Homo sapiens: one gene and its partners. The protein of the gene in region 3 purifies or fractionates together with the protein of the main gene of each other region. This does not show direct contact. Each region holds a gene or a part of one and is shown on either strand. Other genes may lie near its edges.

Region 1 (4,311 bases), on a different chromosome or scaffold from region 3:
TGTTATAAGTTCATGCTTTGAGGTCTCTTCTCCAAAGACATAACAATATTAGACACAGAAAGAGAAATTAATATAGCTAGTTTCAAAACCAAGATTAACTTCTCTGAGGACCAGATACAGAACACAAATGCAGCTCAATAAGACTGTATAGATTCAGGCCAAGAGGGAAAATTCTGATTTTAAAATTTATGAAGCGTAACAGTTCTAAGATGAAGCTAAAGTCTTAAGTATGGCTTCTGAGATAGGTTGCTAAAGTGGAAGAGATAGGAAGAAAAATCAGTGGTTTGAATTGGTCCTTGTTTTTTCTTATTTCTTTTCTCTTATTCTCTTATACACATCTTTTTGTCTTTTTCTTTCCTTACTAATCTTTAAGTCTACCAACAACACAAAGAATCTAATTGTTAAATGTATAGTTCAGCCTAGTTATAGGAAAATAGTTTTTTACCCTATACTAGGTGTTTTATTCTGTTCTTCAACGGGAAGTACTATTCTTTTTAATTTTTTAAAAAGATGGGGTAGGCTGGGTGCGGTGGCTCATGCCTGTAATCCCAGCACTTTGGGAGGCCAACGCAGACGGATCACGAGGTCAAGATATCAAGACCATCCTGGCCAACATGGTGAAACCCCATCTCTACTAAAAATACAAAAATTAGCTGGGGGTGGTGGTGCACACCTGTAGTCCCAGCTACTCTGGAGGCTGAGGCAGGAGAATCGCTTGAACCCAGGAGGTGCAGGTTGCAGTGAGCCGAGATTGTGCCACTGCACTCCAGGCTGATGACAGAGCAAGACTGCGTCTCAAAAAAAAAAAAAAAAAAAAAAAAGAGAGAAAGAGAGAGAGATGGGGTCTTGCTATTTTGCCCAGGCTGGCCTTAAATTCCTGGGCACAAGTGATCCTCCTGCCTCAGCTTCCTGAGTAGCTGGGACTATAGGCACATGCCGTCATACCCAACTCAGAATTACTATTTTTGATTACTTTCAAAGTAAACAGTGATGAACAGGTTACAGTAAAATAAAAATGTAAATGAAATTCATGTAATTTTGATTATCATTTATTTTTATTTATTTATTTATTTATTTTACTTTTTCTAACCTAGGTTGTAGGTAGTATGGATGCACACCCAAGCAGATACTGTGCCACAGTAAGAGTTCAGAGACCCCGACAGGAGATCATCCAGGACTTGGCCTCCATGGTCCGGGAACTTCTTATTCAATTTTATAAGTCAACTCGGTTCAAGCCTACTCGTATCATCTTTTATCGGGATGGTGTTTCAGAGGGGCAGTTTAGGCAGGTTGGTTACCTAGAATCTCATCAGACTATGGTGAAATCAGATATTGTGTTTATAATATGGTGTCTAGTTCTAGAGTTAAAAACCTTGTTAGAGTTCCCCAAGTCAAAACTTGGTGTTTTGTTAGATTGTCTTTTTGAAAATGTTCACTACGAATGTGTATGCCTTGCTTGCTAAGACCATGTTCTAATAATCGTTAAAATGGAATCTATTAGCTATAGAGTGGTGAAATTAAGGAATCCTGAGATTAAATCATTATCCTACTTTGAAGTATATAAAAACAAATAGCTGACTATATTGAATCTTTCCATTTCATATTCTCTAGGTATTATATTATGAACTACTAGCAATTCGAGAAGCCTGCATCAGTTTGGAGAAAGACTATCAACCTGGAATAACCTACATTGTAGTTCAGAAGAGACATCACACTCGATTATTTTGTGCTGATAGGACAGAAAGGGTAATCTCACCTCTGTTGTAATACTGTTATAAACCAAGCTTATCCAACATAGTTCATAGAGCATTCAACAAGGGCCCTCTGCCAACAGCAGGATTTCCAATATATAGTAGCAAATTTCAACAATTACATTATGAGTATAGAAGCATCAAAATAGATTATTTTTAACTTTCTAGAATTTCTAGTCACACTCCAAATATTCAAAATCTCATTCTACTTTTTTGTTGTGAAGAAACTCATGGTTTTAAAATTATTCTTCTATTCATATTTTCCTAAAATCTTCAGAAAAAACAGTACATTCTCTTTTTAAAATATCTCATACAAATTAGTTTTTTAAAAAAGTGGAAATTCAGGCCAGGCACAGTGGCTCACACCTGTAATTCCAGCACCTTGGGAGGCCAAGGCAGGCAGATCACTTGAGGTCAGGAGTTCAAGACCAGCCTGGCCAACACGGTGAAACCCTGTCTCTACTAAAAATACAAAAAATAGCCAGGTGTGGTGGCGCACATCTGTAATCCCAGCTACTCGGGAGACTGAGGCAGGAGAATCACTTGAACCCAGGAGGCAGAGGTTGCAGTGAGCCGAGATGGTGCCACTGTACTCCAGCCTGGGCAAGAGAGCAAAACTCCATCTCAAAAAAAAAAAAAAAAAAAAAAGTGGAAATTTATACAAACTAACTTTTAGCCATGTTTCCTTTAAAGTTCACAGAATTATTTTATGCATTTTATAATGTGAATGTATATTTTTTATAATTAGGAAGGAAAGAGAGGTATAAATACCTAAGGAAATATGTTTTCTTTTTTTTTTTTTTTTTTTTTTTTGAGACGGAGTCTCACTCTGTCGCCCAGGTTGGAGTGCGGTGGCGCGATCTCAGCTCGCTGCAAGCTCCGCCTCCCAGGTTCACGCCATTCTTCTGCCTCAGCCTCCTGAGTAGCTGGGACTACAGGCGCCTGCCACCATGCCCGGCTAATTTTTTGTATTTTTAGTAGAGACAGGGTTTCACCGTGTTAGCCAGGACGGTCTCGATCTCCTCACTTTGTGATCCGCCTGCCTCGGCCTGCCAAAGTGCTGGGATTACAGGTGTGAGCCACTGCGCCCGGCCAGAAATATGTTTTCTTATCTGTGTGCAGCAAGACAGCAGTCTTACTGTCATTTTCAGTGCTCTGATCACATCTGCCCCCATCCTGTAAATCTTGGAGCAGAGAAATCTAATGATACCAAGTGTTGTTTCCCCTTGAGAAAGGGATTTGATAGAAAGGACTAAGAGAGGGGTGTTTTTCTTTGCCATACATACTCACTGTATTCCTTTGGGCAAGCAACTTAACATCTCTGTGTCTGTTTATTTCTTAGCAAGATTGGATAATATTAATATCTACCTTATTTGGGTTGTCGGGAGAATTAAATAAAATACGTAATGCACTTAGAACAGGGCTTGGCCCACACTAAGTACTCAGTAAAGATTGGCTAGCTCTCATTAGTAGAGTGATGAGAACAAAAAAAAATTAATAAATAAAGTTTGGCTAGCTGCAGAGTGGTGGTGATAGTGGTAGAATAGAGAAGAAGAAATAATAATAGATATTGTTCTAAGTATTGCTTATAAATTTCATCAATTTAATCCTCACCAACAAGATTATGAGATAGTTGTATTTTTTTGTTTTTGTTTTTTTTGACAGTTTTGCTCTGTTGCCCAGGCTGGAGTGCAGTGGCATGACTTTGGCTCACTGCAGCCCCCACCTCCTGGGTTCAAGTGATTGTCAGGCCTCAGCCTCCTGAGTAGCTGGGATTACAGGCATGTGCCACCACACCCGGCTAATTTTTGTAGTCTTATTAGAGGCAGGATTTCACCATGTTGGCCAGGCTGGTCACAAACTCCTGGTTTCAAATGATCCGCCCACCTCGGCCTCCCAAAGTGCTAGGATTATAGGTGTGAGCCATCACACCCAGCCTACAACTTTTTGTATATATTAATTAGAAGATTTACGTGTTGCTAATTTATTAGAGTTAAGTATTTTTTTAGGACCAGGCATAATTTAGTAGATTATGAACTGTTTTGTTTTGTGCTTGGTAAAGTGAAGCTGGTTGGTCCACACCACTATAATTCAAGGTACTACCTTATAACAGTCACTCACGTGGCAAAAATATTATCTGAGTCAGTAAAATAGTTTCTGATTTGCTAGCCTTGTAAACCTAGACTTACAGTTAATGATTTTAAATGTGTTGGGATAAGGCGGTGGAGGTGGGTATAATAAACATTTTTAAGTGTTTTATAAGGAGCTTGTATCATCAAGAATTTTGGGTCATTTCAGTTATATTATATCCACTCAGAGAAAATCATGGTGTCCTCTTACAAGATGTTGAAACTGATAGTATGAAATAAAAGGAATAAGGCCTTTGCAATTATTTCATTGTTTGAATCCCAGTTCTGCCCTTTATTGTGTGCTATTGAGCAAATTATTTTGTATTCCTGAGCCTTTATTTCCCTAAACAAATGGAAATAATCCCTAACTTGCAGGATTGTTACCAGGTTTTAGAAATAATGTGTTCAAAGTGCCTGATCCATAAATGGTT
Region 2 (4,311 bases), about 55 Mb from region 3:
GAGAGGTAGTTCATTCCAAGAAGTACATTAGACTCAGTACATTGCACTTGGCCAAAGGGAAGTATTAACGAAACTCTTATCCATGTAAATAAGATCTTTAAAAAGCTATATTTAAAAAGAATCCTTGCAATTGGGTTTTAATGCTAATTAAACAGTTTGAATATATCAAGAAGTATTTGCTAATACCATAAAGCTTGTGGGAAATCCACTTAGAACAAAACAATTTCTAGAAAGTATTAAGAAATTTTGGAAATTAAGTATCACCCTTCTTTACAATTAAAATGTCATGTAGGAAATTTGAGATATTCCCAAAGGATGGGCGGTATTTTTATATTTAATTTAAAAACATTACCTATGAGCACATTCATGATTGGCTTTTATGTCCACTAGTGTCAATTCTACAGCTTGTATTCTTCTATTAAAGAAAGTGCACCTGAGTAAGTTAATGTTTGATATCTGAGGGGGGAAAAGCCTAAAAAGAATATTTAATAAAAGGTATTACTGAATAATATTTTCATATGAATAGCACTGCTGCTCTGGCAATTAAGAGAATTAAGGTTACCTGATTCCATAAAGGCCCAATGTCATAAAAGAGGATCTCCCTGGCTGAAGAGCTCTCCTTAATGTGAACACTAAGAGAAAGCAAGAAGAAATTACTCTAGCTTCTCTGACTTAAACAAAAGAACAAAAAATGGATGTGACTTGGAGTCAGAAGATCTGGGTTGGGGTCCTGGCTATATGATTCTGGAAAAACCACTAAACATCATCAGATCTAAGTTCTTCGTCTGTTAAACAGCTATAATTTCATCCGATAACCTAGTTGTAAGATTGTATAAAGGTAAAATAAGATGTACTTTAAGCTACTTTGTAGGGCACAAAGAACATCTAATCAGGGGTTTTCAGCCTCAGCACTGCTGCCATTTTGGGCTGGATCATTCTTTGTTGGAGAAGACTGCCTGGTACACATCAGGATGTTTAGCAGCATCCCTGGTCTCTGCCCACTAGATGCCAGTAGTACCTGACAGTTATAAACTATTATTCTTTCCTTATTTTTCCCTCCCCCATTATCTTGTATAGCGTGGGCTACGCTGCCATATATAAATTTATTCTTAATGCTTAGTCATAAGATTACACTGCCATCTGTCTAAATTTTCCTGATTCCCTCAAACATTTAAGGGAAGCACAGTTCAGCGGTATGTAAGTTTAAATGCTTCCACCTCTTTAAAGTACGTCCCTTATACACAGTACCTTTCCGCATGGAGGTAAACTGATCTCCATGTAAAATGATCTCTTTGTTAATTTCTGAAGCAGTCCAGATTCAATAAATAAAAATTACCATGTGAAAAATGGGTTAACTCTACTCTTTGAATAGCAATAGTAATGATGTTGTAAAATAAGAAACCACTTTGATAACCAGGGGAAAATTAATATAAGATAGTTTTATACAGACAAAATGGCACCTAAGAATAGTATAATTCATATTTTTGTATGCTAGTTTCTCACCAGGGGAGATGCTCAATAGGTCTGTTCATTTATTTAATAAATGTATTTATTAAACACTATGTTAATATGCTTAATATGTGAAGCACTGAGCCAGCAACTGCTGATACAATCAATAATAAGCAACAACAACAAAATAATGCACAAAGATATGGATTCTATCCTTACATAGTTTTCAGTTTAGTAGAGGAGAAAATAACCATTAGGTATTCAACTAGAATTATCAACACTGCTAAAAACACAATCACAGGCAAAGGACAGCATGCTGAAGAATTCATCCAACTCGCACTCATGAACGTGTGTGGAAAATATGTATTTCCTTATCAAGATTTTGGGTAAAGAGGTAGAGAAAAGCCTAAAGGGATAAATAAATGATAATTTTGATAATACATTAATCAATACTGAAGGTCAATATGCCATTTAAGTTTCTATTAAAAATGGTAACATATTCCTCTATGAAATGATCACCATAAGAAATAAAGCAGTTTACCAATTTTAGACACTAAAGTACCATGTGTAAGTTAGGTATAAAAACATGTAATTTATGAGATTCTCCTGATAATACACAAAAATCAGAATTGACCAACTATTTTACATGATTCTTTGGCAAGATACCCTGCAAAACAGCACATCTCATTTAGCTTTACTTTTTGTTTTCCAGGTTAAGGCAAAATGCTATTTAGCAACTCTCTTCTCTCAACTTCACATTCACTTGCTACCAACAGAAAGAGGTTAGGACAGAAAGTCTAGAGGGGACCCAAAAAGCAGTAACTGAGGAAGGAAAGGAGCCAAGGAAAATAACAAATTTTAATTAGTTGTTTCCTCTTTCTGTTGGGTGCAAAAAAGGTCTGGGTTTAGCTCATGTGCTCACTTAAAAGTAGAGAGGAAGTTGGTAGAATTCTGGGTTGGTGTTCTCCCTTCTCCAAAAAGGTTTACTTTCTCTTCTATTTTATCCTCACTTATTGTAGATCAGAGGTATCTTTTCAAGACTGCTTCAGAATAAATGTAGTTTTTCAATCTGTCTCCCTAATTACTGCATGCAAGGTATCCATTTTCATGTCTTGTAAAAATTGGAGCAAGAAGCATTTTACAAGTACCAGGGATCATTATTCCGGTTCCACAGCTATTAGACCAACTCAGGTGGTCTATGATACCTGATATGACGATCTCAGGGACATCCAGAATGTTGCCAAATGAAGCAGTTTTACGGTGGCCCCGTTTAGGCTTGGAATAGGCTGCAAAAACACATATATACAGTATACATGCAAACAACCACAAACAGTAACACGGAAAATGATTAACTACAAAAATAGACTCATTTTCAAATAGTTCATGTTAATAACATTTCATGCAGAATGGCATGCAGAACTACCTAACTTTTCATCCATGCTCAGAAAAGGCGAGATTAAAGAGCAAACAACTACCAAATACAAGATGTTTTACACACTGGTTTTAATTAGCAGAAAAAAATAAAAAGAACAGAGACAAAGCTGCAGGGTAATGAGGAAGCAAAATTTCAAATATATTCATAGAAACAGTCTACCTAAGTGAAATCACTGATCTGTGATGGGGGTGGGGGAACGAAGGAGGAGAGGAAGAAAGGCGTTAAAAAGTAAGTTGTCGTATTTGTTTTAATTACACAAACACAGGAATACATGTTCAAGTTAGGTGTTTCTTGAAGTGTGCTATAAAGTAAAATCCAATGATTAAATAATAATTATTGAATCAAAGTGTGAAATGTATATGCTTTTGTAGTCATACTTATACATATTTCTAGTACCAAATATTTATTATATTTTCCAAAGTTTAGGGTACATTCACAGTAAACACAAAGTCTGTCAAAAGGCTGGAAAGTATGACTCTTTCCAAGTAAGACAATTCATGAAAAAATTTAAATTGTGTAAAACTCAAGGGATGTACAATAGCATTTGTTCTACACTTAGGCAAAATTTTAATGTGTGTGGTTATCCTTCTAGCAAAGTCATTTCTGTAAATAATAATAAAAAACCAGTGCTTGACTAGAAATATGATACTAGCGAAGACATGAAACCATTATTATAACAATTTTCAGTTTTGAGACAGCAATTAGTATGTGGCAGATCTATCCTGAACAACATCCCTGAAGTGAAAAGGGTTCCTCAAAGCATGAGGGTATGTCCCGGTGAGTAGGGTTCATCTGACACTACAGTGAGACAACCCTGCTCCAAAGAAATACTTGTGACTCATGGAGACTCATGGGCTTGTCAGTGGCTGGTGACTTCTACTCAACTTGATAGTTTCTGAAGACCCATCTGTGGCAGACACAGCTATCTTCTGCCAGTTTCCACTCTTCCCTTCTGTTTTAGCAATAGTACTCTGATTTTATTTAGGACAGAAAAGTCATCAGATAAAAGAGGGCAGATCTCCTCTTCCCTTGGAGCTACGTGTAGCCATTCGACCATGTTACTTTGACCAATGATGTGTGGATGTTGTTAAGAGAGGCATCTGGGAATGTTCCTTCAAAGAACTTGGATGTCTATTTGCCCTGCCCCCATGTCTTCCTTCCTATTGCCTGGAATGTAGAAGTGATGAAATGGAACTTCAACAGCCATTTTGGAGCACAGGATAACTTTGAGAATGGAAGCTATACAGTAGGGATTACAGCACAGAAATAGGAGACCAGTTACTTCAAGATCACAGAGCCCACTACCTCCAGACTTGTTTATATGTGAAAAATAATGCTTATGTGTTATAGACACTGTTATTTCGGATATTCTGTTATATCTAATGGATTCTAATAGTAGCTGATAAAATCAATGATCATGATTAGTT
Region 3 (4,311 bases):
TGTGGCTCTACAAAAAAACTTAAAAATTAGCTGGTCATGGTGATGCATACCTGTAATCCCAGCTACTGTGGAGGCTGAGGTGGGAGGACTGTTTGTACTTAGGAGGTCAAGGCTGCAGCATGCTGTGATTTCACCACTGCATTTCAACCTGAGCAACAAGTAGGACCCTGTCTCAAAAAAATATATGAAATACAAATAACCAAAATGTCAGTAATTAATGAATCTGGGGAATGGGTACATGGAGGTTCATTAAAGAATCTGGAGAGGAGGTATATGGAACTTCATTAGACAATTCTCTACGATTCTGTGTATGTATGCAACTTTCATAATAAAAAGTCTAAAAAGGTCTACTTACAGGTATACTTTTTAAATCCTATCTTCAGTTAAGGCTGACCATTCTAAACAAAATTCTGGCAGATACTTTTCAAAGAATGTTTTCTTCATTCTCGACTGATCAATTAAACACCATAGTGAAATGGACCATAAAAGGGGAAAAGGCCTATTCTGTCATTTCAGAGAAATATGAACATGTTTATTACATGGAAGAAGTTAGTCCTTTTATCCATGTTGATTGATATCAGACATCTGTCATTCTTCAAAGAATTATGTTTTTGTTGAAAAATATATAAGTTAAATGAGTAAAGAAAACATGGCATACACACACAACGGAATACTACTCAGCCATAAAAAAGGAATGAAATAATGTCTTTTACAACAACTTTGATAAAGCTGGATACATTATTCTAAGTGAACTAACTCAGGAATGGAAAACCAAATACTGCATGTTCTCACCTATAAGTGGGAGATAAACTATGAGTACACAAAGGCATACAGAGTGATATAATGGATTCTAGAGACTCAGAAGAGGGCAGGGGAAAGGAATAAAAAACTACATATTGGGTAAAATGTGTATTACTCAGGTAACAGATGCACTAAAATCTCAGAATTCACCATGATATAATTCATCCATGTAACCAAAAACCACTTGTACTCCAAAGCTATTGAAATAAAAATATATTAAATTTAAAAACTTATAAATAAAAATATATAGGTCATATAACTTTATTATTTTCATGAGTAAAGGCAAAATAAATGTTTATGTTGAATATCAATGATTAATTTGTTGAAGCATCTGGTTAGCCCTCCAGTTACTTCAAACATCTTCTACTCGACTATATGACCAAATAAAACAACTTTCTGATGTAGATGGAAAAAAAAAAAAGATTTAAAAAAATGAACCAGGCCAGGCACAGTGGCTTATACCTGCAGTCCTAACACTTTGGGAGGCCAAGGTGGGAGGATCACTTGAGGCCAGGAGTTCAAGACCAGCCTGAGCAACACAGCAAGACTCTGTCTCTACAATTTTTCTTTAATTAGCCAGACATGGTGGTGCACGCCTATAGTCCCAGCCACTCAGGAAACTGAGGCAGGAGAATCATTTGAGCCCAGGAGTTCCAGGCTGCAGTGAGCTATGATCGCACTACTGCACTCCAGACTGGGCAACAGAATTAGACCCTGTTTCAAAAGAAAAAACAAAAAGAACCAATATCCATTAATTATGCCTAATACTAAATTGTAATGAACACATACTAAAAATTACATAAAATAAGTAGTAGAATTGGAAAGTTGAATTTTTTTAGCCATTATTGTTTAAGCTATGATTTAAATTGATTTAATCTAAATCAAATCACACTATTGAGGCTGTGGAAACATTAAATCTAGTAGACAGTGACAGATTTACCACTTACCAATGATCAAGAATAGTTTAGTTTACAAACACCAATGTCTTTCCTGCCTATGAAAAATAGCACCACCCAAAAACAACAACCAGATTTGTATGCCTCCTCTTCTTTGGCTAAGTTCTAGGATAGTAAAAACTGTTCATGTCTTTGCAACAGCTAGCACATTGTAGGTATACAACTCTTTTAACAGAAACAGTCACAACTTCCAATTCCCAGAAAGCTATTGCTAGGTTTCAGTCACATTCCCTAGGTGACATGTGTAGGATAACAAAATAAAGCAGGTTTGCCTTGTAGGCAGTTCTACCTTGAATCGTTTTGAGGATCCTGTTTCTTCTAACAGAAACATGTCATGAGTCTTTAGTGAAAAGCAGTATAAATACATATACATGAAGACAAAAGACAGCCAACGATTCTTTTTCTCATCATTATTAAACCACTGGTTAATTCCTAACTGAGGTATTTCATGTTTTTTAGATAACAAGATCATCCTCATTTTCAACACTTTTTTTAGCTTTCTTTCCTTTATTAAAGTAAAATTTACATACTATAAAATCTTAAGTTTGAATCAATATGTTTGAGTAAATGTATATAACAATTGGCAAAACTGGATAAAGGTATACGGAAGCTCTTTGTACTAGTCTTGCAACTTTTCTGTAAGTTAAAAATTACATGAAAACGAAGTTACCCAAAAAGTATATAACTGAATTACCATCACCCAAGTCAAGCTACAGAATATTTCCATCATGCCAGAAAGTTTCCTTGTGCTCCTTTCCAGTCAACCACAACCCCTACCCAGAGGCAACCACTGTCCTGATTTCTATCACCATACCTTAGTTTTGCCTGTTCTTGTATTTTTCATAAATGGCATCATAAACACTTATACATACTCATCTGTGCCTGGCTTCTCTTGCTATGAACAGTATTTCTGAGATTCATCTATGTTGCTATGTGAATCAGTAGTTTATTCCTACTGTGAAAAAAGCTGCTATGACCCAGTCTTTTTGTGGGCATATATACTTATTCCTCTTGGTACAATAAGATTTCACAGAAAAAAAGTTTCGCATATAAATATGCCTGGGAAATAAGGCAGTATAGATAGATACTGCTATACACACATAAAACATATAGCAACCATATATACCATTATATATAATGTAAAAAAGATATTTGATATTTATACATATGTGTAATATATGTGTAATACACACACATACATAAGCTTGAATAATTCTGATCACGCCACTGCACTCCAGTCTGGGCGATAGAGTGAGACTGTCTCAAAAAAAAGAATTTATAAAGTTCATAGTGAAAGTAAATCTAAGATGGGAAAGATGAGCATCTCAATTTTTCTAAGTTTATGTCTTAACCTAACAATAACTCAAAAGAGAAACAAGTATCTCTCCATGTAAATTACCCTGTTAGGTTTCAATGAAACACCTTTTCTCTTGTAACAAACATCTCCTCCAAGCTAGAATTTCAAAACAGTGTTACCATCCACTAGGTAATAATTTTTATGCTAGCAACAAAACCCAAAATATGTGTTCAGATTACAAGACTGTTTTTATTGTCTTGCTTTTTTAAAAAAGTTAAACATGGAAAAACTTAATTAATTAATATCTAACATGGGTAAAGAACATTCCATGCTCATTCAGAATATATTCTGATGCAGACTCAATCTCTAAGATGTTTTCTCCATTCCAAAAAGTAACCTATCGCAGCATTATGTCCATGACTGGGACATCTTGACTTTCAAATTCACTGTGCAATTTTCAGCTAACAATGGAGGAGGTTCTTTAGTTTCCAGAGATAGGAACACTGAGAACAAGTACAAATCTAACTTTTGAAAAGATCAATCTGAAATTTGCAACCCTGCTTTTGATAATGAAATGACCATTTTCTGGGGACTCCTCATTTATAACATCTTTAAATTGCCAAGTTTAAAACAGAATGCTACAAATGATTCTAGAAATTTACCACTGCCCACTTAGGATTTGCAACTACAAAAGGGAAAAAACAACCCTCTTCCAGTCTGATTTTTCTTCATCTCTTATTCTTCTTTCCAAAAAACGAACAATTTCAAAAGGATACAATTCAAATGTACTACATTTTTAAGCCAGGCATGGTGGCTTGGGCCTGGGATCCCAGCACTTTGGGAGGCTGAGACAAGAGGATTGCTTGAGCCCAGGAGTTTGTGTCGAGGCTGCAGTTAGCCACCACACTTCAGCCTCGGTGACAGAGCAAGAAACAATCTCTTTTAAAAAAAAAAAAAAAGAAAAAAAAGTATATATATATATATCCCATTTCTTTTTTAAAAAAAGGTTAAAAACATACGTCAATCTCTTTAAAATGTATGTATGTGTCTGTGTGTATATATATGTCTCTTCCAATCTTTTTCTTAAAAAAAGTATAGAAATATATATCCCAAGCTCTTTCTTTAAAAAAAAAAGTGTGTGTGTATATATATACGTATATGTGTGTGTGTGTGTGTGTGTGTGTGTGTGTGTGTGTGTGTGTGTGTGTGTGTGTGTATTTGAGACTGGGTCTTGCTCTGTCCCCCAGGCTGGAGTAT
Region 4 (4,311 bases), on a different chromosome or scaffold from region 3:
AATCCTAGCACCACAAAGGCAGATCTGTGTCTGTCTTCCTCACCGACGTGCCCCAATAGAGGGGTGAGACTATGCAATGTTACAAGGTGTTGGCACAGAACATAAAGGATGGGGGAAAGAGACTGAGAGGAAGGTCAAGGAGAGGGGAGGATGTAAGGGAAAGAAAAGGGAAACAGAAAGAAAGGAGGGAAGGGGAGGGGCAAGGATGTAGAGAAGAAAAGGCTGGTGGAGCCCCTGACACCTCCATGCGTGTCTTTGGCACTACTGGCAACTCCAATGATGAGCAGGTATTCCTGCTATTTTGTTTTTGAATATAAAGTTCTGTAAGAGATACAATCACAGGAAACATGAGGGCTCACAGATAAAAACAGCCAGAGCATCCTAGCTTCTCTCATGCCTCAACAGCTAAAGTCTACAGAAAACTGGCCAGGCGTGGTGGCTCACGTCTGTAATACCAGCACTTTGGGAGGCTAAAGCAGGTGGATCATCTGAGGTCAGGAGTTCGAGACCAGCCTGGCCAACATGGTGAAATCCCGTCTCTACTAAAAATACAAAATTAGCTGGGCGTGGTGGTGTGCGCCTGTAGTCCCAGCTACTCAGGAGGCTGAGGCAGGAGAACCGCTTGAACCTGGGAGGCGGAGGTATCAGTGAGCTGAGATCACACCACTGCATTCCAGCCTGGGTGACAGAGCGAGGCTCTGTCTCAAAAAATTTAAAAAATAAAATAAAATAAAGTCTACAAAAACTTCATCAAGGCTTTGACAAACGCACAAATACCATTCAAACTACAATAATTTTTATCATCTCTCTGTAACAAAGGCTCAGTGTCAGTGTCTGGGGAAGATGTGAGAAACCACCTGACCTTAGTCCCTCCATCCTGTGGCACAAAAAGACACTTCTAAGGGGTACATGGTAAGACTGCCTTCTTATCTTTCTGGAACAAAAGGCATCTGGGTTCATGTTCTCCAGTCAAAACAGACTCTTTCTCCCGAAGGTCAACTCATGAATACATCTCAGTCCTTTTGTGGACCCAATGCTGAATATGGGCACAGAGTGGGCAGACCCTCACATACACCATCCCCAAACACTACCATGAGAAGCCCTACCCACAGGGCAAAGGTTCAAAGGCTGGCCTTTCATCTAGTGGCCACAGGCAAATGCAGCATAACTGGAATGAGCCATAACCAGGCAGGTCTGGCTGTCTAAGCACCTGAGCTGAGCTCAGCTGAGCAGGTGCTGCAATACTACCTGAGGCTTCAAACTCTGCATGGACGTAGGCCAAGCAAAGATGTCCTTTAAGCTTGCCATGCCCCGGGTGGAAAAGGGGGCCAAACCTAGAGGAACATTCTCTTCCATAGAGACAAGGGCCAGGGTGGACAGGGCTGTGAGGACAGACAGGTGTGAAATCAAATCAGAGGTCAAACCCCATCCCTGCTGCCTAAGCTACTGAGTCACAACCTCAGAAATTCAATCTCTCTATTGTGGGGGGAAAAAAACAAAAACAAAAACAAAAAACAAACAAACTGTATTTTCAGGGGTACTGTGCAGCCAGTCAACCCCACCTTAACTGTGTGTACTAAGTGCTCAGGACATGCCCCTGGTGTGGCAGGGCCAGGTGAGGAGAACATGTTGACACTCCTCTCCGCAGGCTCCTTCACCTCATAAGAGCAGGATGCACCTGTCTGTGAAAATAGGCAAGAACGGACGAGACACAGCAACAGGGCTTGCAGAACCACCTACGATGTATTAATACGTGCTGTACCGGAAGGTAAGACTAAGACAATCCAGATACACCACAAGGTAAGGTTCCTCCAAGAGACAAAATGAGAAGAAAATATCGATCAGCGATCTTCAGGGGGAGGAGGCGGTCCGTGTTTACAGAACAAAAATAAGGAGACTGTGCCCAGCAGATGACCCCTCCCCACTGACTCAAGGCTGCACTGCGTCCGCGTGCCCTGCTGTACTGCGGCCCAAACCCACGTGCTGGGTATATGGGACACGGGAAGTTAAAAATAATCTGAGGAAAGCAACCCTTTTTTCCCTAAATAGCTACTCTTGGAGTTATTAAAATAGGAAGAAAGAATGTATACATCTAATTAATCATTCTCTTTGGCCATGAGCAAACTCTACACTGGGCACTACACTGGTCAGACAGGAACCTTTCTCTTCCTCCTCCCTAACCCACTGCTGACATCACAGAGTCTTCACATGCTGGCCTCCAACATCCAGAAACTGGCTCTGCAATCTGGCTCCCTCCCCTCCTCTACCAAAGGTCCCACCAAGCGACTCTTCATGGGAAGATATGTGCAGATGAGGCACAAACAAAAGCCATCAACACACTTGATGTTACCAGGCTCTGGTGCAGGAAGGGCAGATCTCATGACACCCTTCGAGGTCCTGTTAACTGGGCTCTCAGCCCAGGTATGAGAACACAGCTGAAAGACCAGAGTGCACCTGTGAGGCAGTGATTGGGGACAAGAGCAGGTAAGACAGGTTCCTTGCTAGGCTAGGACATGGCAGGAAGCTGGTCCACACAACCTTCTTCCCCACCGTCATCACCAACCCCTCTGCCACTATCGGCCTTGTCACCAGCACAAGGGCCTAAAGGGTGGACTCTCCAGGACTGCCATGCTCGTACCAGCTCATGGCTCTGTGGCTTGCCCTGCAGCTTCTGGTGGTAGTCAAAGGTAAGCCTGTCCAACACCGCCTGTTCCTCCTCATCCACGGTGGCCATGGAGCGCTCCTTGTTGATCTTGTCAATGTCGATGGGCTCTTCTCCCTCCAGGATGGCGTTCCACCAATACTCGCCCACCTTGCTCAGGTTCACCTGGGGACAAGCAGGACAGAGACCTGAGTCAGAGACCTGAGACAGGTGTCCAGGGCTGGGGACAGAGCAGAGCCCACTGAGGGATGGGTGTCCAGGATAAGCTCAGGACCAACTACACAAAGGGAGGTGACAGACAAGAGGGGGTGCCAGAACCCAAGGCAGGACCCTCTGTGCCTGGGAATGCATTTGCTGCCTGTGCTAACATATCCCAGGGAAGAGCTAGGAGGCACATACCTGAGGGGACTGACATTCTGGAAGATGCCTTTATCCTTCTTCAGCAGGTCCTGGATACTCAGGACAGTGCCTGTTCCATGTGCACACCTTGCCCACTCTCATGAAGAAAGGCTATTTTCCAAGACCCATGACACCCCCCCACACCAGGACCTGTCCTGGGCCAACCCAGCCTGCCCCCATGCTTGCCATGGAAGGCTCTGCTTAGCTCTTATCAACCAACTACCTCTCCAGTGATCTCTCTTGCTTCCAAGAGCAACATCCAACATTCTGCTATCTTAGGGGTAAGCTGGGACCTATGAGACTTAGGGCTCAGCCTAATGCATGACAGAATCTCCTGGGGAGTCCTCACCCCATGACAGGGCACCATGCCCTGTCCCCACTTCTTCCTCACTGGGGCCAAGCTTGCTGCATGAGGGGGTCCTCCAGCCCCATTCCCTAAAGTTCTCTGATGGCTTGGGAAGGAGAAACGACCATCAAGAAACAACCCCAAAAGAGGCCTCCTTGGGCACCTCTGTGGGGATGGCACAGACATCCCTTGGTCAAAGGAAGCAGCACCCAGCATTTAAGATCCAGCCCTCAGTGTTGGGGTCTGTGAGACTCATGTCATTACCATAAAAACTTAAAAGACAACTGGAACTGCAGTATGAGAGCAAACGTGAGGGGTGCTGTATGTACCTAGGTGACCCTGGCTGCTTGGCCTGTCCCAGGGACACAGAGGAGGGCCCTGGCCACACCATGCCCTGTTATCAGTGGTCATACAGACACAGAAAACAAGAAAACTGGCTGCATCTGCTGTGGTCAGTGGCTGGGCTCAAAATTCTTACCAGAGTGGCCAAGAAGCAACAGAGTGGGTTTGTCTACTTTGCCCTAGATGAGCACTGCACTTTTTCAACAGAAATACTTGATCTGTGTTTAGATTTCATAATATTTACAATTGAAAGAGGTACATTCACATGCCCAAGTGTGATGGGACTCTCTGATGGGATTAAACCACTAGGTGCTCACAGAAAGGGAGAAAAGGTAGCAAAGGGCCCGCAAGTGAGAGCAGCTCTCATCCATGGAGGTGGCAGCCACCAGGACACTTACTGACCAGGTGGGCAAAACCTACCAAGCCACACTCAGGGTAACTGTGACACTCAAGAGGTCACAGTGAGTCCACAGGACACCACGTCCCCCCAAGAGGGAGCACTGGAGACTCACCAGTATACACGGGCTTGAGAGAGCAGTGTCCTAACACTGCACCTTCCACC
Region 5 (4,311 bases), on a different chromosome or scaffold from region 3:
TGTTCAAATCTAGGCCTCACCAGGTACTCAAGGTACAACCTTGGGAAAGACATTTAACCTCTCTGGGCCTCATGTTCCTCAACTGTAAAACTGATCATTGCATTAGCTACCTTATTCTCTGTAACATAATTGTGCCCATCTGACACAGAGGAAAAGCCAATGCCAACATCCCCAGGGTTGGTAGACGCTATCCAGTACTACCTGTAGTATATAGGTATACAGTACTATGCTACATAGTAACTATAGCAGCAAAAAGGAGACACCTGGCTTTCTTAGCGTGACTAGATGAATACTGTATTGATTACATATTACAGCAATTATAATAATTAAGCAATGATTAGATTATGGTGATGATGATAATATTGTTTAAATCAAGGTATTAGAATTAATGAATAACAAGAACCAACACTATAAACAGAACATTACCATTGTAGCCCAAGCAGAGGGGAAGGAAAGATGGAAGCCTTCCTGGCAATGCAGTAACAAGAATGGTGGCCCACACACAGACCCAGTTCGCAGCAGGCAAATGAGAAGACCCACATTTTGGAGGCAGAACCATTCATTAATAACCCAAACACAAACAACTGCATGATCACAGGTCCTCTAAACATACTCATTTCCCAGAGGGGAAAGGGACACCCTTCAGAGAGAAACAACTTCTGATGATGGTTTAACAACACAAACACAGGTGATGTCCAGGAAGCACTCCAAGCATGGCCTTTTCCCAGAGAGATGCCAAGGCCGGGCCTGCCACCCCCATCCACGCACACATGCCACCTCACCTGAGCACCTGCATCTCATTCTTGAAAGCCTGGGCCTGCTCAGCTGTGGGCTGGGACACCTTGAGCACCTTCACGGCCACATCGCCATGCCACCGCCCTCGAAACACGGTGCCAAACGAGCCCGTCCCGATCCTCTTCAGCAGCTGCACCTCACTGGGTGGTACCTCCCAGTAATAGCCTGAGTCCCGGTACCCCAGGTTCTTCTGTGGGCCAGATGGGTGGCATCTAAGAGGCCTGCCCACATCCCTCATCCCACGTCACTCAGCCTTGGTGGCCCCAAAAGGATCCCCCTCGAGCATACCACTTTCTTCTTGTCATCGGCCAAGGACTTCCGCTCGCGCTGCTCTGCTGGTGACTTGGAATGTGGGGACTTCCTCCCCGAGGACACGCTGGCTGGGCTGGGGCTCCCCCGGGGGGTTCCATCACTACCTCCTCTACTACCGGCAGCTGCAGTTGCAGAGAGGATGTGAGTGGAGGTAAGTGGGGCAGCGGGGGTCAGGGTGCAGGCACAGGGGACTCACCATCAGTGCTGAAACTCTGGCCAGTGAGCTAGAAGAAGAGGGACAGGAGTCAAAAAGAGGGCATGGAGGCCAACAGGGATGGCTCTACCCTCTGCCCTGTGGTCCCCGGCATTGTCCCCCACAGCACCAACCTGGATGAGGTTGGAGTCCATGGGGGCCGTGGTGCTGACCATATGGACGTTGGGAGTGGACGTGGAGCGGATGCGCTGTAGGGGGGCATTGGCTGGGGCAGGGAAGGGGAAGTGCTCCGGGTCACAGTGCTGGGTGCGGGGGCTGCCAGGGGAAAGGCTGTGAAATCACTGCCAGGAATCAGAGAACCGAGAAAGCCCCCCACCCCACCCCCAGCCATAAACATGCATTTGGCTCACACAGAGCGAATGTCCACTGGCAGTACTATTATTCATTGCTTCAAGAAACATTTATTGAGTGCCTGCTGTGTGCCAGATACCATTCTAGGTGGTGGAGATAAAACTGTAAAACAAAATAACAGTTCTTGCCCTGGTGGGGCTGAAATAAAAAACAAATATATAATATGCCTGATGGTGATAGGTGCAATAAAGAAAAATAGTAAAGCAAAATAAGGAGACACAAAGTGTTCCTAGAAAGTGTCAGGAAAGGTTTCTCTGAGGAGGAGATGACAATGGAGTAAACGCCTAAAGGCAGGATAGCAGGCCACACAGATAGTGGGGAAAGGGTAATGTATCATATTTTATAATTATATATTATAATTACATGTACTTTTCAAATGTTATATAATATGTATCATCTATATAAAAATGGCAATGTTTTAAAATATACATATTACCATATTGTTATACATACATGTTATACATATGATATATGCTAAACATATTGTAAAGTTACAAAAATATGTTAATGTTCCCTTCACTATCCTGAAATGAAACTCAAAGGTAATTAATGCACATACACTCATAATTTAAAATAATACCCTAACTTTATTTTATGTATCATATAAACATGTATGATGTTCTACATTATATAAAATTATGTAATACAACATGATACAATAACATAAATATACCATAAAATATGCACATCATAAAATATATATTAGAGCAATAATATATTTTAATATAGCTATAGTTTTATATAATATTTAACATAAAAAAGCAATAAAAGGGAAGTAATTTATGATAAAATAATACGTATTTCAAAATGGAAAGGCTTGAGTATGATTATACTAGAATTAGCAAAGTAGTTAGATGCTTATAAATATATTTATAATTAATAACAAAAAAATTGATTATTTACACTGTACCAGATCCTGTTCTAGGCACTGAACATGTCTTAACTCATTTAAGCCTCACCAGAACCTTTATATGGTAGAAAGTATCATCATCCCCTCTTTACAGATGAGAAAACTGAGGCCCAGAGAAATGAGGTGACTTGCCCAAGGTCCCAGTTTCATGCCCTTACTCACACTTGTAGGTGCTCAATAAATGTTTGTCAAGTAAACAAATGAATAAAGTATGGCTCGTGGTCTACAAGAGCCCCAAGATCTTTTTCTCCCCCAGCAGCTCTTCAGCTAAGGCATCCCTACCTGGGACCCTGGGGGGTTAGCAACTCATTCAGGGGGCGGTTCGAGGGAGCCTCATGCTGTCTGGAGCCTCCGGACAAATCCTGGACACTGTGGTAGAACCTTGAGGGCATGAAGGGTATAAAGCAAGGGGACACGGGTCAGCTGTCTGTAAGGGCCTCGTGGCTGGGCCTCTGTGCTCCCCATCCCCCCACCCACCCCAGGCTGGGCTCACTGTTGGCGGTTGGTACTCATGTCAACACAGACTGTGGGGACCTTGGAGGAACAATGCTGGTGGAACTTGTAGCCACAGGTTTGGCAACGGAAGCCATGGAACAGAAACTTAAGGCAGAAGTCACAGAACGCCAGGCTGAAGAAGGTCTTCCGTACCTGATGCCACAGAGCAGGGAAGTTTGAGACCTGGTCAAGGACACCCCCAACCATGGTCCACCCCCACCGTCCACCCTGCACTCACAAAATTGTGCATGGTCAGCGGGACATCTTCAAGGACCTCGACAATGAGCTCCTCGCCATCCAGGGGAGCAATGGCTGTGTCCCAGGCAGTGACCGTCTTTCGTCTGCAGGGGGCATGGAAAGGAATGAGTGGGAGGTTGGGTAGGGGCCATGGGGAGGCAGGGAACCCCCACAAGTCCCTCCAAGCCTGCTACCCACAGGGTCATGTCTGGCATGTTTAATTCTCATCACAGCAACTCTAGAAATTAGTCACTATCCTTGCCCCAACTTTACAGATGGGGAAACAGGCTCAGAGGGATAAAGTGACTGGCCCTGGGCCACAAGGGTAATGAGAGGCATGACGGTGTGAAGAGTCCATGCTCTGAAACGGAAGGGGAGAAGCAAATGAAACTAAACAACTACATCTTAGAAGCGCTAAGCCAGCCCCTGAAAAGGGGGCTGAGGAGGCACTGAAACAACAAATAAAGTGCAGTGTGTGAACTGCATCATAAATTAAGGAAACCCACGAGAGAGGAATAAATAAAGTCAGCAAGACCCAACTCAGCAGACAGAGAATGGGGAAAATGAGGAAGAAGAGACCTGATGAAGTCATGACATCGTGAAAGGACAAAATAGATGAAATCTGGGCAGAAGTGATGGACCAGGGTGAGGACTTGGGGGCCAGGGGAGAATGAGTTGCTGACCTTACAGGCCAATAAACCAATGAAGTAACAAAACAAAAGATGGATGAACTCATAGATTACTTGAACTACAGTAGTCCTCCCTTATCTGTGGTTTCACTCTCCATGGTTTCAGTTACCTGTGGTCAACCGGGTGGGAAAGTATTAAATTGAAAATTGCAGAAATAAACAATTCATAAGTTTTAAATTACGTGCATTCTGAGTAGCGTGATGAAATCCTGCACCATCCCACCCAGGATGTGAATCACCTCTTTATCTAGCAGATCCACACTGTCTACGCTACCGCCCATCACTTAGTAGCCTGCTCAGTTATCAAA
Region 6 (4,311 bases), on a different chromosome or scaffold from region 3:
AACAGCCAGCGTTTACCAGCCCCTGCCATGTGCTCACCTCCCTTTCCCACGCATTTTGTGAGCTGATATTGAGAGAAAATGTGGTTTGGATAAGGAAACTGAGGCTGGACTCAGTCACAGTAACAGTGACAGTCACGAAGGACATGCGCTCAAAGCTCAGCATTTATCTGCTGGATACTGGGATACAGTAGGTGCTCAATATATGTGGGTGTGTGCCAAGGTGACACGACCCCCCTTACTCCTTGGAGAAGCCTTGGAGGGGCACTTTCACCAGCCGGCTTCAGAGACTTGGGACACAGGGCTGGGGGAGACACACGGCCCGCCGGGAAGGCATGGGGCGCGGGGGTTACTCACGGTGGGGTCCATCTTGCTGATGGCGTCCTGCAGCATCTGCACGTCCTTCACATCGAAGCACTTCTGGAGTTCCTGGGGGTACAGAGGGGCTGGGGTCAGGGGCTGGGTCCCTGTGGCCCTGGGGGGTCCCGCTCAGGGTCTTCCTGCTGCCCGCCTGGGCCGGGGAGCCCCACCTCAGGGAGGGACTCGTAGACCTCGACGGGGTCCAGGCCGCCGGGGCCGAGCCGCTTCTTGCGCTCCTCCTCCTCGTACTCCTTCATGGCCTTCTCGATGCGCAGCTTGGCACGGCCCCGCACACGCTCCTTGAAGGCTTCCAGCTCGTCGTTGAAGCCCTCCATGTACTGGCGATCGGCTGTCTATGGGGGTTGGGCAGTGCTCACTGGACCTGGCCCAACGCTCAGGAGGGACTGGGGGGCCCAGGACCCTCCAGCCACAGCTCCTCAGAGGCGCCCCACGGTTCCCCAAGTCTATTCCTGACCTACATGAAGGGCTCCCCAAGGCCTGGGCTCCCCCGCCGGGGACCTCATCTGGCATTTGCCAAAGACCACCTGCTTGGGAGCCCTGCTCTACTGCAGATCTGAGACACTCATGTCCTCAGTGTCCCTGCATGGGCACCTCTAACTCAACATGGCCACCTCCCAGCCTGCCTTGTCCTTGGTCTCCCTAATCTCGGTAAGGATAGCCCTGTTCCTCCAGGTACGCAGGTTAAAAATCCTAGAGGCTAGGCCGGGCGCGGTGGCTCACGCCTGTAATCCCAGCACTTTGGGAGGCCGAGGCGGGCGGATCACGAGGTCAGGAGTTCGAAAACATCCTGGCTAACACGGTGAAACCCCGTCTCTACTAAAATACAAAAAATTAACCGGGCATGGTGGCACATGCCTGTAGTCCCAGCTACTCAGGAGGTTGAGGCTGGAGGATCGCTTGAACCCAGGAGGCGGAGGTTGCAGTGAGCCGAGATCGTGCTACTGCACTCCAGCCTGGGCAACAGAGTGAGACTCCATCTCAAAAAAAACAAAACAACAACAACAAAAAAACCCTGAGGCTGGCAGGCACCTGTAATCCCAGCTACTTGGGAGGCTGAAGCACTAGAATTGCTTGAACCCGGGAGGCAGGGGTTGCAGTGAGCTGAGATCACGCCACTGCATTCCAGCCTTGGTGACAGAGCAAGACTCTGTCTCAAAAATGAACTAAAACCCAAAACCCTAGAGGCACCCTCACCTTTGTCCTTTACCCACATATTCACCTGGGTACCTTCAGCACATCCTACTGCTCCCACATTTTTTTGTAATGCAGTTTTGCTCTGTCACCCAGGCTGCAGTGCAGTGGCAAACCACAGCTCAAACTCCTGAGCTCAAGTGATCCTCCTGCCTCAGCCTCCCAAATAGTTGGGACTATAGTACTCAGTCACCAAGCCTGGCCTGACCTCCACTTTTATTTAATTAATTAATTTATTTATTTATTTATTTTTGAGATGGAATTTCGCTCTTGTTGCCTAGGCTGAAGTGCAATGGCACGATCTCGGCTCACAGCAACCTCTGCCTCCCAGGTTCAAGCGATTCTCCTGCCTCAGCCCCCCGAGTAGCTGGGATTACAGGCACACACCACCATGCCCGGCTAATTTTGTATTTTCAGTAGAGATGAGGTTTCTCCATGTTAGGCTGGTCTCAAACTTCCAACCTCAGGTGATCTGCCCACCTCAGCCTCCCAAAGTGCTGGGATTACAGGCGTGAGCCACTGCGCCCGGCCTCCACTTTTAAAGTCTGGCAGAATCTGCCCACTTCTCTCCTCCTCCCTGGCCCCACCCTCTCCTGATCTAGGATGCGGTGACTGGAGGGGCTTGAGTCCCAGTGGAGAGGAGTCGGCCTTACCTAGAGCATTGTGGGCTGGTTCCCTGGGGAGGGGGCCTCCAGCCACCTGGCAGCTCAGGGACCCTACCTTAATCTTAGTGAAGAACTGCCGGAAGCAGGCCCGGGGGTCCACCTTTAGGCTCTTGGCCAGCTCCAGGATAAATTGCATGACGATTGTCTGGTGGGCCACCTGCTCCATGAGTGCACATTTCTGCCAGGAAGAACAGGCACAGCGTCACCAAGTGGCGGCCTCATGGCAGCGCCTTTTCACAGTCCCGGGGAAAGCTCCACTCACCTCCTCCACCTCTAGGTCAATGCACCAAATGACCAGGTAATTGGCTGTCTCCTCGCACACCAGGTGGACGTTGTCTGACAGGTACTTTTGGCTGTCATCCCAGCGGCGAAGCATGCCTGTGGGAAGATGCTGGCAAGGTGCTGGAGGGCCCTGGAGGCAAAGGGCCTGCCTCGACCTTGCCCCCCATAACCCACAAGCCCCACTCACCAAAGTGCTTGATCTGTTTCTCGTATTTTTCCACGAAGGTCTTGTGTTTCTGCTCCCTCACCTCCTCTGAGTCCTCCTCCGTCTTCTCGGGCTTGGTATTTACCATGCTCTGTGGTAGGGTGAGAGGGGGAGTGGGCTGGGGCAAGGCTGCGGAGCGCCTCGAGCGCGGCCGGGCGGGCCGTGGTCGCAGCGCCCATCCCATCCACGGCGGAGGTGGTGACGAAGCCATGAGCATCAAGGTGGCGGGAGCGTGGGCATGGGCCTTGGGGCAGATCAGAGGAGGGGACCGGTGGGGTGTTTCATCCGCCCGGCCCCCCAAGCCTGTCCCCCCTCCCACGTGGCCCCCGTCCATCCCTCAGCTCCCCGCCCCCCACCACACTCTTCAACTACACCACCGGGGTCCTCCCCTGACCAGGCATTGGGTGCGCATGCGTCCTGGTTGCAGGCTCTCTGGCTGCGCATGCGCACTGCCCGCCCCGCCCGCCCCGCACACCTTGCTGAAGCCGTCTTTGCTGAGCGTGTCCACGTTCCAGGGCATGCTCTTCTCCTTCTTGCGCATCTCCTCCAGCTTCTGCTCCCAGCTCCGCTCCTCCTTGCGCAGCTGCTGTGCCTCGGCCTGCAGGCGCTCCAGCTCTGCCTTGCCGCCCTCGGCCACCTCCAGCTCCTTCAGTTTCCTCTGGCACTCGGCCACCTTGCGCTTGCACTCGCGGCAGCCCCTGTCCAGTTCCTCCTTCTCCTTCTGGAACTGCTCCATGCGTTCCACCCGGGCCTGCGGGCAGGGACGGCCTATCAACTCTGGGGAGTCGTCTGTCCCTTACCCCCGCCCCATACCCAATCCCTGCACCGGAGATGGCCCCAGGAAAAAGTACGCGTCCACCTCCCGTGCCCTGGTCTCCCAGCTTCCGCCCCTGCGCCCACAGGTGCCAGCGCACACCCAAGTGGGGTCAGGTCCCTCCGTCCTCTGCTCAGAACCCTGGCGGCTCCCATCTCACAGCAGAACCCAAGTTGTCACCACAGCCTACATGGGCCCTACACAATCTGCCTCGGCACCTCCCCTGGTAACTCTTCCTTCCAGCTACACCAGCCCCTCACTTTTCTCACCTTTTCTTGAGGCCATTTTTTTTGTTTAAGAAAACAAAACAAAACAAAACAAAAAACAGGGTCTCACTCTGTCGTCCAGGTCAGAGTGCAGTGGCCCAATGATGACATACTGCAGCCTCGACCTCCCTGGGCTCAGGCGATCCTCCCACCTCAGTCTCCCAAGTAGCTGGGACTACAGGTGTGCACCAGCACGCCCAGCTAATTTTTGTATTTTCAGTAAAGATGGGGTTTGCCATGTTGCCCAGGCTGGTCTTGAAGTCCTGGGTTCAAGCGATCCTTCCCTCTCGGCCTCCCAAAGTGCTGGGACTACAGGCGGGAGCTACTGCACTCTGCGGAGCCCACTTTTTTCTTGAACCTCAAGGCCTTCGCACTGGCTGTTCCAACTACTTGGAATGCTTTTCCTTCAGAGCCCCCCACAGCTGACTCCATGGCACCCGTGCCATCTGGGCTCCATGTTGCCTTAGCGAGGACCCCTTCCCCAACCACCTTCCTGATGATGGCAACTTC
Region 7 (4,311 bases), on a different chromosome or scaffold from region 3:
TCAAACTCGTTCATGGTCTATGGGCAGGCACCAGGGTCAGCAAGCGGCGCTGCCAACAGTGCCCAGCTGGTCGGCATGCGTGGGGTGGCATGAGGGGCCCCAGAGTCGGAGGCAGAGCCAGGAGAGGCGTCCACTTCACACCTGGTGGCCTACTGGGCTCAGCGGGGAGTCCAGGCTTACAGGGAACACATGGCTGCGGCCCCAGCTCAGAGCATGGGGTTCAGGGAAGGGTGGGGTAACATTGCCCAAGCCTGGCAGGGCTCAGCAACCCCAGTTTTCCTCTGACATGGGGAAGAGGACCCACCTGGGAAGCAGCTGCGCCCTACATGGAAAACCGGCCTAGGTGGAGATGCCGTGGAGTGCTGAGTGTCTCCTGGGCCGAGCTGGGACCCCATGACCCACCCAGCCCTCCACAGTCCAAGGCAGCCCCAGGCACAGGCAGAAGTGGGGACAGGCCTCACCACGCGGTGCTTGGGCTTGGCCAGGGACACCTCCATCTCTTCAGCCCCTGAGTTGTCACTGGGTGAGCCCGACCGGAAGTCCATCTCCTCCTCCTCCTGCTTCTTGAGGCCGTCAGCCACAGTCTGGATGGCGGTTGTCCACTCCTCCCTGCAGGAGGTCAGGTGAGGCTGCAGGCCTGTACCAGATCAGGAGCTCCACCCCACGTCTTTCACCCACCCGCCAGCCTCACAAGCGTGGTTCCACAGCTGTCGGGGTTCCCAGAGACAGCCCTGAGGAGGCCACCACTTGACCTGGTCTGGCCACATACACTCAGGGTCACGAAGCCCTCTTGGACGTGGGGGACACCCAGGCTTAGCCCCCCAGCAGGACTCTGTCCCCACAACCGGACTCCAACCCCCAGCAGGACTCCGCCCCCCAGCAGGACTCCGCCCCCCCCAAGCAGGACTCCGCCTCCCAAGCAGGACTCCGCCCCCCAAGGAGGACTGGCCCTCTCCACCGGGTTTTTCTTTTTTTGAGACGGAGTCTTGCTCTATCGCCCTGGCTGGAGTGCAGTGGTAAAATCTCGGCTCCTGCAGCCTCTGCCTCTCGGGTTCAAGCGATTCTTGTGCCTCAGCCTCCCAAGTAGCCGGGATTACAGGTGTGCACCACCACACCCAGCTAAGTTTTATATTTTTAGTAGAGACGGGGGTTTCACCATGTTGGCAGGCTAGTCTCAAACTCCTGGTCTCAAGTGATCTGCGCACCTCGGCCTCCCAAAGTGCCGAGATTATAGACGTGAGCCACTGCACCCGGTCCCTAGCCAGTTTTTATCTCCAGCCTCAGTTTCCCCACCCAAACCCCACAGGCAGGACTGGGCCAGTTTCCAAACTGGGCTCTGAGGAGGGCCTGGGAGCACTGGGGAGTGAGGATGGCTACAGGCAGAGGTGCCAGCACCCCGCCATCCCCGTGTCCCTCCTAAGCGCTGGGGCTGCCCAAGTGCCTGGCCTGGCCGCCACAGCCCACGTACCGCTCCTCAGGAGTCTCCACATGGAAGGTGCGTTCGATGACAGTGGTCCACTGCAGGCAGCGGATGATGAAGGTGTTGGGCCGGGGCCGCTCCGTCTTCATCAGCTGGCACTCTGCGGGCAGGCAGAGCCTCTGTCTGCGTGCATCCCCCTGCCCCTCCCAGGGCCCTCACCACAGCCCCCGCTGCACCAGCCAGCTCCCCTTGCATACCACCCACCAGGTCCTGGGAAGCCCCATCTCTTCCTCTCTCCAAGCCTCAGTTTCTCGCCTCACAGAGTGGGGCTAGGACCCCTGTTCCAGCTCAGACACTCTACTCCAGGCTGAGGCAGCCACACAGGGCATCTGGCCCGGCGTCAGGTCAAACCCCCACCATCGTCCACTCCTACAGTCCTTCCTTCAGTCTCTGAGCCCCGCCGTGCGCCAGGCCTCAGAGGATGAGGGGTATGGAGATCCCACAGAGGGGCTGGCATGAGGGGGGCACCCCAGAAACCTGCTTGTCCCACCTAGTGTAGAAATGTCCTGCTTTTTTCCCAACCTCACCCTGAGTACCTGGGAAATACAGCCACCTGGAGCACACCCACACCTGGGGCACACCCACACCTGGGGCACAGGCACACCTGGGGCACAGCCACACCTGGGGCACAGGCACACCTGGGGCACAGCCACACCTGGGGCACACATACATCTGGGGCACACACACACTGGAGGCAAAGCCACACCTGGGGCACACGCACACCTGAGGCACACACCTGGGGCACACGCACACCTGGGACACAGCCACACTGGAATACACAGACATCTAGAACACATCTAGACACCTAGCCACATCTGGGGCACACGAACACCTGGGGCACACGCACACCTGGGGCACAGCCACACCTGGGGCACAAGCACACCTGGGGAACACATACCTGGGGCACAGCCACACCTACAGCACGTACACCCTGAGGGCTGTGGGAACGTGCGGGGCCCTGAGAGGTGTGAGTGAGTGGAGTGTGTAGCCGCTGGGGCTCCGTGGCAGGCTCTGGCCCAGCCTGTGCAAAGCAGGAGGAGGCTGAGGGGCCAGTGGGGGGCCTCTGACATTCCAGCATCGAGGCCCTGGCAACCACAAGGGGGCCTGGCCAGGCAGCAAGGAAGCTGTCTTCCAGGCCTGGGGGCCAGGAGGGGGCTCGGGACCAGCCTGGTGGGGAGGGTGGCCTGTGTCAACACAGGCCAGAGAAGTGGAAACCGGTGTGAAGCCCCGGCACACCCACCTCCCACTCGCTCCTGGATGGTCCGATCTGCCCCAGTATGCAATCCCCAGGGCCAGAGTCTCGAGCCCACTGCCCCGGAACCGTTCCCCGGAGAAAAGCCCCGGACAGAGGCCCAGCACAGCCCCTGGCCCCTGCCCAGCTCTGCTCCTTGGCCAGGCGCTCCAGGCCACTCACCTATGGCCTAATCTGAAGGCCCCAGCCTTGCCAGCTGCTCAGGCAACACCTCCAGCTGGTACCCACCCGTGTGCCTCTCCAGAGAGCTCCCCACCTCGTTCCTTCCCAATGCCTCGGCCTGGCGAGCACACCCACAGCACCCACCCCCAGCAAGGCCCTGTCCCAGGTGCCACCAGGCACGCTGCTGGCACCCAGCCTCTCCCTGATCCCTGAAGCCCCCAGCCCCAACCGAGGAGACACTGGGGAGGGTGTGGGACAAGTCACAGTGAGTCTCCTGCATGGTTACGAGGCTGTCAGGAGACAGGGGTGTCTGCCTTCCTGGTCTCCCCTCACCCCTGGGGTGCCCTACTCTATCAGGCTGCCCTGCTACTGCTGGCTTGAGGCTGGAAGAGCCAGGGAAGGAGACCTCGGCTTACAGGAACCAGGTCCTGGTAAACCCCACCCCAACCCCAGCCCCTCAGCCTGGGGCTTTGCAGGGCAAGGCCTCTGCCCCTCCCAACTAGAAGCTTCAGGGCACGGTTTGCTGGCCACAGACCACCTAGCAGCCAGGGTGCCAGACTGACCCCACCTCCCCTTATACGTGCAGGCACCAAGGGTGGGAGTCCTTCCCTGCCCAGCCTGGGGACGGATTCCCTGCATTTAACCTCCTCCCAGACCCTGGACCAGAACCTGGGGGTCCAGCAAGTTCAAGGGAGTCGGAGGACCGCAGGCCTCAAAGAAAGGAGGGCAGAGCTACTTGGAGGGGAGGGGCCGATGCAGCACATGGGGATGGAACCTAAGGCCAGCCCCTGGTGGGCACCTCGCTCTGCACCACAGACCTGCCTGAGACAGATCCCAGAGGCCTGCAGTTACCCAGCCCTGCCACATACAGATGGCCCACAACTGGGCCCTAATTAGCCACTCAGTCACACCTGCATGCCCAACCCGTGTCTCTGGCTGCCACAGGCAGAGCTGGGCTCCAGGACAGGGACACAGAAAATGGGGACCATGCTGGGAGGCCCACGTGTCCCCAGCCTCCCACCTAGCAGGGCGCCTGGGTCTCCATGCCAGGGTTCCCGTCTGACATGGGTAGGGTCGCACCTGCCCCCGCTACAGGTAAGGAATAAAGCCACAGCAGGGCGGAGCAGGGAGCGTCACATGTCTCTCATCTCTGTGGGATGCTCCGGCCAAGGTCCCCCGCTGGCCTTTCTGCACCTGCCCCTCCATGGGCAAGGAGGCAGCCTCACAGAGGGGAAGCAAAGGCTCTGCCATGGGGTCTGGAGGCTGAGAGCCTGTGCAGGGAGAGGCACGAGCTCTTCCTCGAGTGATGGAGGCTTCAGAGCTGGAGACCCCAATGGACTCTTGCCCCCTCACCCAAGGGGTTTCCCAAGGAGAGGCCCTGATGGGCTCTATCTAACCCCCTTGGAGGAGGGGCCCC

The links.
Region 1: the proteins of FKBP5 (region 3) and AGO3 purify together in Homo sapiens (affinity purification with mass spectrometry; 4 studies listed by BioGRID and IntAct, with this or other methods). This does not show direct contact.
Region 2: the proteins of FKBP5 (region 3) and MAP3K7 purify together in Homo sapiens (affinity purification with mass spectrometry; 4 studies listed by BioGRID and IntAct, with this or other methods). This does not show direct contact.
Region 4: the proteins of FKBP5 (region 3) and NUDCD3 purify together in Homo sapiens (affinity purification with mass spectrometry; 3 studies listed by BioGRID and IntAct, with this or other methods). This does not show direct contact.
Region 5: the proteins of FKBP5 (region 3) and ARAF purify together in Homo sapiens (affinity purification with mass spectrometry; 4 studies listed by BioGRID and IntAct, with this or other methods). This does not show direct contact.
Region 6: the proteins of FKBP5 (region 3) and CDC37 purify together in Homo sapiens (affinity purification with mass spectrometry; 5 studies listed by BioGRID and IntAct, with this or other methods). This does not show direct contact.
Region 7: the proteins of FKBP5 (region 3) and AKT1 purify together in Homo sapiens (affinity purification with western blotting; 3 studies listed by BioGRID, with this or other methods). This does not show direct contact.

What each region holds. Positions count from the first base shown.
Region 1 is NC_000001.11:36,038,696-36,043,006, forward strand, and holds part of AGO3 (protein argonaute-3), read left to right. Parts: intron 1-1,094; coding exon 1,095-1,289; intron 1,290-1,611; coding exon 1,612-1,746; intron 1,747-4,311.
Region 2 is NC_000006.12:90,541,898-90,546,208, forward strand, and holds part of MAP3K7 (mitogen-activated protein kinase kinase kinase 7), read right to left. Parts: intron 2,736-4,311; coding exon 2,655-2,735; intron 1-2,654. UniProt on the Homo sapiens protein: Serine/threonine kinase which acts as an essential component of the MAP kinase signal transduction pathway. Plays an important role in the cascades of cellular responses evoked by changes in the environment.
Region 3 is NC_000006.12:35,678,908-35,683,218, forward strand, and holds part of FKBP5 (peptidyl-prolyl cis-trans isomerase FKBP5), read right to left. Parts: intron 1-4,311. UniProt on the Homo sapiens protein: Immunophilin protein with PPIase and co-chaperone activities. Component of unligated steroid receptors heterocomplexes through interaction with heat-shock protein 90 (HSP90).
Region 4 is NC_000007.14:44,389,659-44,393,969, forward strand, and holds part of NUDCD3 (nudC domain-containing protein 3), read right to left. Parts: intron 2,828-4,311; coding exon 2,639-2,827; intron 1-2,638.
Region 5 is NC_000023.11:47,563,904-47,568,214, reverse strand, and holds part of ARAF (serine/threonine-protein kinase A-Raf), read right to left. Parts: intron 3,419-4,311; coding exon 3,316-3,418; intron 3,231-3,315; coding exon 3,076-3,230; intron 2,973-3,075; coding exon of another isoform or gene 2,964-2,972; coding exon 2,865-2,963; coding exon of another isoform or gene 2,861-2,864; exon of another isoform or gene 2,240-2,860; intron 1,577-2,239; coding exon 1,435-1,576; intron 1,332-1,434; coding exon 1,304-1,331; intron 1,230-1,303; coding exon 1,084-1,229; intron 986-1,083; coding exon 783-985; intron 1-782. UniProt on the Homo sapiens protein: Involved in the transduction of mitogenic signals from the cell membrane to the nucleus. May also regulate the TOR signaling cascade. Phosphorylates PFKFB2.
Region 6 is NC_000019.10:10,392,732-10,397,042, forward strand, and holds part of CDC37 (hsp90 co-chaperone Cdc37), read right to left. Parts: intron 3,473-4,311; coding exon 3,197-3,472; intron 2,813-3,196; coding exon 2,704-2,812; intron 2,613-2,703; coding exon 2,497-2,612; intron 2,413-2,496; coding exon 2,290-2,412; intron 711-2,289; coding exon 528-710; intron 427-527; coding exon 355-426; intron 1-354. UniProt on the Homo sapiens protein: Co-chaperone that binds to numerous kinases and promotes their interaction with the Hsp90 complex, resulting in stabilization and promotion of their activity. Inhibits HSP90AA1 ATPase activity.
Region 7 is NC_000014.9:104,775,191-104,779,501, forward strand, and holds part of AKT1 (RAC-alpha serine/threonine-protein kinase), read right to left. Parts: intron 1,581-4,311; coding exon 1,469-1,580; intron 610-1,468; coding exon 462-609; intron 18-461; coding exon 1-17. UniProt on the Homo sapiens protein: AKT1 is one of 3 closely related serine/threonine-protein kinases (AKT1, AKT2 and AKT3) called the AKT kinase, and which regulate many processes including metabolism, proliferation, cell survival, growth and angiogenesis.